2 linked regions of the Homo sapiens genome follow. The protein of the gene in region 1 interacts with the protein of each later gene in a pairwise test. Each region holds a gene or a part of one and is shown on either strand. Other genes may lie near its edges.

Region 1 (5,116 bases):
GCATGGCGGCATGCACCTGTAGACCCAGCTACTGGGGAAAACCATTTGAACCCAGGAGTTTCAGGTTGCAGTGAGCTATAATCACACCACTGCACTCTAGCTTGGGTGACAGAGCGAGACCCTCTCTCTCAAAATAATAATAATGTATGATTCCATTTATTTGGCATTCCAAGAAAGGCAAAACTAGGAAGAAAGAAACAGATTAATGGCTGCCCGCAATTGGGAATGGAAGAAGTGGTTTACTACAAAGTAAAGGTGACTTTTGGGGGAGTAATTAAACTTTTATAACTTGATTATGGTGCTACTAGTGGTTACATGGCTAGTTTCATTTGTCGAAACTCAGAATTTGTACTAAAAAAAGGGAATTTTACTCTACGAAAATTATATGTTGATACCATTCAAAGACTGGCCAAAGCAAAACTAAAATAGCTAAATAAATAACTAAAACTAAAATATTATCAGGCAAAGTAGACTTCAAACAAGGAATATTATCAGAAATTGAAGAGGAATATTATATAAAGACAAACGGGTCAATTTACCAAGAAATCAGACAATCCTAAATGTATATGCATCCAACAACAGATCTTCAAAATACACAAATCAAAAATTGATAGAACTGAAAGTAGAAACAAATCCACAATTACATTTGCACACTTCAACACTCTTCTATCACCCTTCCAATCAGTAACTACATCAGTAAGAATATGAATATCTGTAATTGTAAGTATATACAGAACACTATCAACCAACTTGACCTAATTGACATTTACAGAATGCTACATCCTACAAGAGCAGAATACACATTATTTCCAAGTGTACATGGGACATGCACCAACACAGGCCACATTGTGGGCCATAAAACAAACCATATAAAGAATGTTCTCTACCCACAATAGAATTAAACTAGAAACCAACAAAGCAAAAAGATACCTGGAACTTCACAAAGTGGTTTTTCCAGAAGCAGAAAATTAGTACACACTTACATAATAATCAAACCCCATTTAAATAATTTCCAGGTCAAACCAACCTCCTAATATCTAATAACTCTATTAAATAAAAGCTAGATGTGACAGAACATTTAGACTATTACTTCTTTTCCCAACACTCATTTTGAAATAATATAGAATAGATAAAAGAATCAACAAGAGAGAGAAATCTGGCCAGGCGTGGCGGCTCACGCCTGTAATCCCAACACTTTGGGAGGCCAAGGTGGGCAGATCACCTGAGGTCAGGAGTTCGAGACCAGCCTGGCAAACACAGTGAAACCTCATCTCTACTAAAACACAAAAGTTAGCCAGGTGTGGTGGCGTGCACCTGTAATCCCAGCTACTCGGGAGGCTGAGGCAGGAGAATTGCTTGAGCCCCAGAGGCAAAGGTTGCAGTGAGCCAAGATTGTGCTACTGCACTCCAGCCTGGGTGACAGTGAGACTCTGCCTCCAAAAAAAAAAATAAATAAATAAATAAAAGAGAAATCTGTCTGTGCAAACATACACATACCATGAAACTGCATACAGACCTTTTTTCTGCCGGGGTTTTTGAGACTCAGTAGATACAGGAAATTGAGTTCTCTGAAATGAAATAAGTAGTCTATATTGAAGCACCACAATATAAACTTGCTAACTTAAAGAAGCATCCAAATAACAAGAATAATCAGTAGCTCACCAATTATGCAATTAATCCATTAAATCCATATTGTGATAGAGTTACTTTAAATATGGTTTAAAAAACAAATGTCAAGTCATACTTTTGCTATCCAAACTATTAACAATGTATAACACATATTTATAATATTTACAATGTGCATTTTTAATGTATAATTATAGTATATAGTAAAATGTGCATAAGAAATATACTCAGTTCTTAAACACCTCATATGAGTATTATACTTGATGCCATACTTCTCAGCAGCCAAACCAAAAAAGTGATCGCTGTTTGATAAAAGGAAGCTTATGAGATCATCTACACAGAAACTGTCTAGCACTCAATTCTAAAAGGGAGATAGTTATTTTCCACTATAACCTCATAGAAAACCATCAAATGAATTTTTCTTTTCTCAACTTCCTATGACATACCACAATATAAGCAAAAATAATGGCTCAAATTTTTCCAGATGTAATGAGAAACACCAATCCTTAGTTTCTGGATACTCAACAAATCCTGACCAGGTTAAATGAAAATAAATACATACTTAGATACATCATAGCGAACTGCACCAGAGACAAGAAGCAGCTCTTAAAAGCAGCCAAACAAGAAAACATATCACCAGATTACCAACAAAGAAAGGACAGTTATTTGAGAGGCCAAGGCGAGAGGATCACTTGAGGTCAGGAGTTCAAGACCAGCCTGGACAACATGGTGAAACCCCGTCTCTACTAAATATACAAAAATTAGCTCGGCATGGTGGCACGTGCCTATAGTCCCAGCTACTTGGGAGGCTGAGGCAGGAGAATGGCTTGAACTTGGGAAGCAGAGGTTGCAATGAGCCAAGATCGTACCATCGCCCCCCGGCCTGGGCAACAGAGCAAGACTACGTCTCAAAAAAAAAAAAAAAGGAAAGAAAGGCCAGACGCCGTGCCTCATGCCTGTAATTGCAGCACTTTGGGAGGCCAAGGCAGGTGGATCACCTGAGGTTAGGAGTTCAACACCAGCCTGGCCAACATGGTGAAGCCCCATCTCTACTAAAAATACAAAAATTAGCTGGGTGTGGTGGCAGGCACCTGTAATCCCAGCTACTTGGGAGGCTGAGGCAGGAAAATCGCTTGAACCCAGAAGGCAGAGGTTGCAGTGGGCCAAGATCACACCACTGCACTCCAGCTTGGGCGATAAGAGCAAAACTCCATTTCAAAAAAAAAAGAAGAAGAAAAAGAAAAACAAAAAAGACTGACAGCTGGCTCTTCAACAATTAAAAATGGAAGACAATATCACAATAAGACATCATAAGAATAATTACTCCAGTGTCAGGTACTAAGTAAAATGAATGTTAATTTAGACCAGAGGTCAGCAAACTATGGCCCACAGGTCAAATCCATCCTGTTTATTTGGTCTACAAGCTACGAATGATTTTTACATTTTTATATGGTTAAAAAAATTCAAAAAATAATAATTTTTAACACATGAAAATTGAGTCAAATTTCAGTGTCTATAAACAAAATTTGTGAGAACATACCCACACTCATGTTTACATAATGTCTATGGTTGCTTTTGTCCTACAACAGCATTGCTGAGTAGTTGTCAGAGAGACTCTATGGCCCACAAAGCCCACAATATTTACTATCTGGCCCTTTACAAAAAAAGGTTTGCTAACACCTGATCTAGATTCTCTCACCCATCAAAACTAATTTTCAACAACAAAGGCAAATTTTTAAAACTTTCAGAATTTGAGAGTTTTTAGATTCTCACCAAATAAACTTTTAATGAAAATATATTAGGAAAAAGAAAAATAATCCCAGAACAAAGGAGTGGAATAAGCAAAGGAATTGGTAAAATAAGCAAGTATTCTAAGCATCTACTGACTGAATAAAACAAACAAAAAGCATAATTTGTGGTGTTTAATTAAAATACATTAAGAACTACAAAACTAAACAACAATGGCATACATTTGCAGATGGCAATAGATGGTAGTAAAGCATTTGATGGTCCCTGTAGTAGCAACATTTAGGCCTGGACTTACAGTAAACATGTATTTTTTAATTTCTTTGGTACTCATTAAAGGAAGGCAAAGTATAACTTCCAAGGCATGAAATAAGAGGAGCAGAAAGGGAGGGGTAACAGATGGAAATTCAGTTTTTTTAAAAAAAAGAAAGGAGGTAGAAAAAAATGCAATTCTCCAGTTTAAGACAGATAGATCAGCCAGGTGTGGTGGCTCACACCTATAATCCCAGCACTTTGGGAGGCTGAGGCAGGAGGATCACACGAGCCTAGAAATTTGAGAACAGCTTGGGCAAAACAGCGAGACTCTGCCTCTATAAAAAAAACTTTAGAAATTAGCCAGGCATAGTGGCAGGTGCCCTTAGTCCTAGCTACTCAGAAGGCTGAGGTGGGAGGATCTCTTAAGCCCAGGAAGCGGAGTTGCAGCAAGCCATGATTGGACCACTGCACTCCAGCCTGAGGAACAGGCTCAAAACAAACAAACAGCCAGGTGTGGTGGCTCACACCTCTAATCCCAGCACTTCGGTAGGCTGAGGCAGGCCGATTGCTTGAGTTCAGGAGTTTAAGACCAGCCTGGGTAACATGACGAAACCCCGCCTCTACAGAATATACAAAAATTAGCCAAGTGTGGCCTGCGCCTGTGGTCTCAGCTACTCGGGAGGCTGAGGTGGAAGGATCACTTGAGCCCAGGAGGCAGAGGTTGCAGTGAGCCAAGATCACGCCACTGCACTCCAGCCTGGGTGACAGAGCAAGACTCTGTCTCAAAAAAAAAAAAAAAAAAAAAAAAAAAAATTGCAATGTAAATTATCACATTAAGACATAATTTCATATCCACCATGACTGGTGGCAGAAGCATAAATTGTTACAACCACCATATAGTTTCCTGTAAGTAATAAAGTTACTCCATTACCTAGCAATCTATTTCTAGGTATACCTTAGAGAAACTCTTAGATATTGCATCAGAAGACCTACATAATAATGCTCAGGGCTAGGACTAAAGTGAGGCATGTGAAGAACCTAGGGTATAAACCTTAAGAAGGTACTTACTCTTACTCCATAAAATGTGAACCCTAAGCACCTCACTTACCTTTCCTTAGTCTTGGCCATATTTATAGCAGCTTTTTTTTTTTTTTTTTTTGAGACGAAGTCTCGCTCTGCCAAGCTGAAGTGCAGTGGCACAATCTCGGCTCACTGCAACCTCCGCCTCCTGGGTTCAAGTGATTCTCCCGCCTCAGCCTCCCGAGTAGCAGGGACTACAGGCGCGCAGCACCGCATCCTGCTAATTTTTGTATTTTTAGTAGAGACGGAGTTGCACCATGTTGGCCAGGATGATCTCGATCTCTTGACCTCATGATCCGCAGCCTCGGCCTCCCAAAGTGCTAGGATTACAGGCGTAAGCCACTGCACCCAGCAGCAGCATTGTTTTTAATAACTAAAAACCAGAAATAATCCCGATCTCCATCTAGTG
Region 2 (5,116 bases), on another chromosome or scaffold:
TTTTACATGATATATATTTTACCACCATTTTTAAAATGCAAAAAAAAAAAAAGGAAAGAAAAGTCCTATTTGGGAATTCCTCCCACTTTGAGAGGAGAGAGTAAAAGAATTATAATGTCATAATGCCTTCTCAAATCTTCTGGAGGAGGAAACTTCCAAAATCATGTCTAGTGATTGCCATGGTAAATCATCTGTGGTCCAAATATAGTTAAGAACATAATGACTATAAAGAAAGTTTTTGAAGAAAATGAAATATCTAAAACATAGTTTGTTCTCACTAAATCAAACTTCACAGCACCAAATTTTACAAGAATACTGTAGGAAGACAATCCCATATAGTTGTGAGTCTGGGGAGGCTGAAATGTAAATTAAAAGCTTGTCAAAATGATTGATAGGCTAGTAACCACATTGAGTAGCTGAAGTCAAAGGATTTTTGAGATTCTTTTTCCCCAAACTATTAATCCTAGACACAAAATTCCTTCTAGCAAACACGTGTCTAAAAAACTTTTTTCTAAATTACATTCTGCTGCTGTGCCCAAGAAGGCTAATGAACTTATTAAGTTGGCCTGGTGAAAAGGAATATTTATTTACACCTCAAGCAAGCAGTATGGTAAACACAGGTGTAGTCTAGCAGCTGGGAGTGTTGAAAAATTATTGTGCTTGCAACATAATGTCCAACGTTGAAAGTTTGACTACTAAAATTTGAAGTTTAAAAAAATTCTAATAATTTTTTTTTGAAAAAAGATGGATAGGGCTGGGCATGGTGGCTCACACCTGTAATCCCAGCACTTTGTGAGGCTGAGCTGGGCGGATCACAAGGTCAGGAGATGGAGACCATCCTGGCCAACATGGTGAAACCCTGTCTCCACTAAAAACACAAAAATTAGCCTGTCGTGGTGGTGTGCGCCTATAGTCCCAGCTACTCAGGAGGCTGAGGCAGGAGAATCACTTGAACCCAGGAAGCAGAGGCTGTGGTGAGCTGAGATCGTGCCACTGCACTCCAGCCTGGGCAACAGAGCAAGAGTCTGTGTCTCAGAAAAAAAAAAAAAAAAAAAGAGATGGACAGCCAAATGTGCACAAATTACACTTCAATTATACCAGACTCTTCAAAGCACTTTCACAGAAAGCACTTCCTGCCTGCTAGTAATCATTCTCACTCAAAGGTAAGAGGTTTGTGGGGAATGAGGACCTAATGCTATGCTTCCAGTTCATCATTCCAATTAAAAGCTTCCTGCTGGGTGTGGTGGCTCATGCCTGTAATCCCAGCAGTCTGGGAAGCTGTTGGATCACTTGAGCTCAGGAGTTCGAGACCAGCCTGGGCAACATGGCGAAACCCCATATCTATAAAAAAACAAACAAACAAACAAAAATTAGCCAGACGTGGTGGCACACACTTGTAGTCACAGCAACTTGGGAGGCTGAGGTGGGAGGATTGCTTGATCACTTGAGGTGGAGACTGCAGTGAGCTGAGATCACGCTACTGCACTCCAGCCTGGGCAACAGAGTGAGATTGTGTCTCAAAAAATGAAAAAAGAACTTCCTGATTCCTGATGAAGAGAGGAGAGCTGGCCCTGCTGGTTTCTGGTGCATCCCTAAGTCTATCATGTTCTTCCCACTCACAGGAGCATCCATCATTGGTGTGAACTGCCACTTTGACCCCACCATTAGTTTAAAAACAGTGAAGCTCATGAAGGAGGGCTTGGAGGCTGCCCGACTGAAAGCTCACCTGATGAGCCAGCCCTTGGCTTACCACACTCCTGACTGCAACAAGCAGGGATTCATCGATCTCCCAGAATTCCCATTTGGTAAGACCAACATTTGATGAATCATCTCAATATCTTCATTTGATATGCATATAAACTCAAGTAAATCTATACCCAGAGATCTTTTGTCATAGTGAAGAGATGGCTTGGTGTCTCCTCATGTCTTGTCCCTGGTTTCTGTCCCTGCAGCCAAAAGCCCCTTCGTATTAGAGAAGAGCAGAAGGAAAGGATGGTCCCAGCTAGCAAAAAAGATCTCTGAATTTAAATATAAAATCTAAGGTGAATCAGCATCTAAACAGACAACTAGTGAGTCATACTTTGGGGTTGGTGAGGATGCCCTTCATGGGAGAATCAACAGATATTTAGTTCTAGTTCCAGCTCTGTTGCTAAGTCCTGTCACCTTAGGAAAATCTTTAAATTCCTCTAGCTCTCAAATTCTTTATTGGGAAAATAAGATCAGACCAGTTATCTCTAAGGTCCTTTTCTCCAATTTTTAATATGGCTCAGCTACTCCAGAGTTTTGGGATTGCAGGCAAGATACCATCATCGAGTGACTGTATAACAAGTTTTAATGAAGAGACCAAGCAGATGAAGTGAGGGGATACTTGCAGTCCAGGCAGAAGGAAAAACTTTCCCAGCATGATTGGGAAGAGCGGGTGGGTTGATCTCACAAATTAAGCCAGAGTGGTCAGCAGGGGCAGAGCATGCCCAGCCTCCTATTTCCTTCTAAGGTCTTTACACCCTATCCTATATTTTATAGGGACCCTTAGACAAGTAAGATATTATAAAATACAATCACTCTGGAGGAGCCACAGAGGAAGAAAGGCAAGGCATTTGTGTTACTTACTGCTGTATAACACATTAAATTAATGCAAAATGTAGTGGCTTGAAAAACCACTTCTTATCTCACAGTTTCTCCAGGTCAAGAATTCAGGGATAGCATAACTAGGTGGTTTTGGTTCAGGGTCTCCTAAGAGGTTGGAGTCCGGATATTTGCCAGGGCTATTATCACCTGAAGGCCTGTTGGGAGCTGGGGGATCTACTTCCTAGCTCACTTAATTGGTTTTTGGGAGTTAGTGTCAGTTTCTTGCTGTCTGTTGACTGGGGGCCTCAGTTCCTCAGCTCATGGGCCTTTTCACTGTGATGCTAGAAAACATGCTTGAAACATGTGATGCTTGCAACATGGCAGCTGGCTTTCCCCAGGGTGAGTGCTCCAAGAAAGTGCAAGGCAGAAACCATGATGTTTTGTATAGCCTAGACTCTGAAGTCACATGCCAGTTCTGCCATATTCTATGGATCTCACAGACCAGCCCTGTTATAATGCAAGAGGGGACTGCACAAGAAGAAAAACATCAAAGGGCAGGGGTCATTTGGAACCTCCTGAAGGCTGGATACCACAGCATGTAAAAGTGAACATACAACACAAAGTAGCAAAGTTTTTTCTTAAATGTAAAAATTGAATATTGAAAACAATTCATTTATTGAAAATTACATACTTGTAGCTACTTATCTTGAATTTTTATGAAAAGAATGTATAATGCCTAATGGCATAATGCCACTTATTACAGGACTGGAACCCAGAGTTGCCACCAGATGGGATATTCAAAAATACGCCAGAGAGGCCTACAACCTGGGGGTCAGGTACATTGGCGGGTGCTGTGGATTTGAGCCCTACCACATCAGGGCAATTGCAGAGGAGCTGGCCCCAGAAAGGGGCTTTTTGCCACCAGCTTCAGAAAAACATGGCAGCTGGGGAAGTGGTTTGGACATGCACACCAAACCCTGGGTTAGAGCAAGGTAAGCATCTTTTTACTAACCCAAACTAATTTAGATTATGAATATGTTCAAGTGAGGCCATTTAGAAGACTGCAGCAAATTTGTTGTGTGATGATGAAGAATCAGTCATCCCCAAATTCTCTCCCAGAGATGTTTACAAAGCATCCTTATTAGGTGATTTCTGGAGATTGTTTTAAGAATATAGAACGTATTTGACCTGATTTTGGATTTTGAAAAGAAAAAGAAAAATTTTTTTAAAAATTGTTTTTAAATATAGGCTGGGTGCGGTGGCTCGCGCCTGTAATCCCAGCACTTTGGGAGGCCAAGGTAGGAGGATTACTTGATCTCGGGAGTTTGAGACCAGCATGGGCAAGATGGCAAAACTCCATCTCTACTAAAAATACAAAAAAAAAAAAAATTAGCTGGGCATAGTGGTGCATGCCTGTAATCACAGCTACTTGGGAGGCTGAGGCACAAGAATTGCTTGAACCCGGGAGGCAGAGGTTGCAGTGAGCCAAGATCACGCCACTGCACTCCAGTTTGGGCAACAGAGTGAGACCCTGTTTTAAAAAAAAAAAAAAAAAAGAATATAGCATGTAAATAAACGTAAGTGGCAATGAAATGTGATTTTGTGCTCTAGTAAAGCACCATTAGTGTGGTGCACAATACTCTTAAATTGCATTGATTTTTAAGAGTTAAGGACCACTTAAGTATAGCTAATACTGATTGTTCTATATCAAGCATGATTTTCAGAGCTGGGAATACGGTGGCAAATAAGACAGGCAAGGTCTTTGCCCTCAGAGTTTACATTCCAATGGGGAAGATGAATAATACACTAGTAAAAAAAAATGTATGTCAGGCACTGGGAAGGGCAGTAGGAATATAGAAATGAGAAGCCGTGGATTAGAGACTCACAGTCTACTGGGTAAAAGAATACGAAAGCCAATGTATTATACTGTGGTAGCTGCTTTAGTAGATGTATGGATAGAAAAGTAACAAGAGAAGAGAATGACTATCTCTGCCTAACAGAAAGATATTTTAAAAGAAGGGTTTTGGGGCTGGATTTTGAAGGCTCAATAGGCTCCTACCATATAGAGAACTAGGAAGCGGGTGGAGGACAGGTGCTCCAAGGAGAGGTAGCAGTTCCACTCTGTTCAGCAGCTATTAACAGAGCACAGCTATCTGTCAGATGCTGTTGTGGATGCTGAGGTAGCAAGCTAAACAAGGAGCTAGCAATCTAGCAGGCAGAACGATAAGCAGGTAATGTCCAATGAGTATAGTAAGTCCAAGGATGAAGATGTGCATAGGTGTGCAGGGTCTGAGCTAATGTCCCAAGGGGCAAAAGGCAGAGAGAGGGTGAATGAAGGATTTCTAAGAAAGCTGATGCCTGAGTTGAATTCTGCGAGAGGAATTACATTGCTAGAGGAACAGCCCTCAGGAAAGCACTGAGAAGTGGAAAGAGAATGACACATTGAGAAACTGGAAGTTTGAGAATAGCAGAGACAGAATTTGGTGAAAGACACCTCCCAGGAGGAGGAGGCAGCCTCTTTATTCATGCTCAGGAGTTATGTAGGACC

Evidence for each region. The genes of interacting proteins can lie anywhere in the genome.
Region 2: the proteins of BBS4 (region 1) and BHMT interact in a two-hybrid assay, tested with the Homo sapiens proteins (one study listed by BioGRID and IntAct).

Annotation. Positions count from the first base shown.
Region 1 is NC_000015.10:72,691,629-72,696,744, reverse strand, and holds part of BBS4 (BBSome complex member BBS4), read right to left. Parts: intron 1,569-5,116; coding exon 1,517-1,568; intron 1-1,516.
Region 2 is NC_000005.10:79,124,424-79,129,539, forward strand, and holds part of BHMT (betaine--homocysteine S-methyltransferase 1), read left to right. Parts: intron 1-1,622; coding exon 1,623-1,805; intron 1,806-3,331; coding exon 3,332-3,560; intron 3,561-5,116.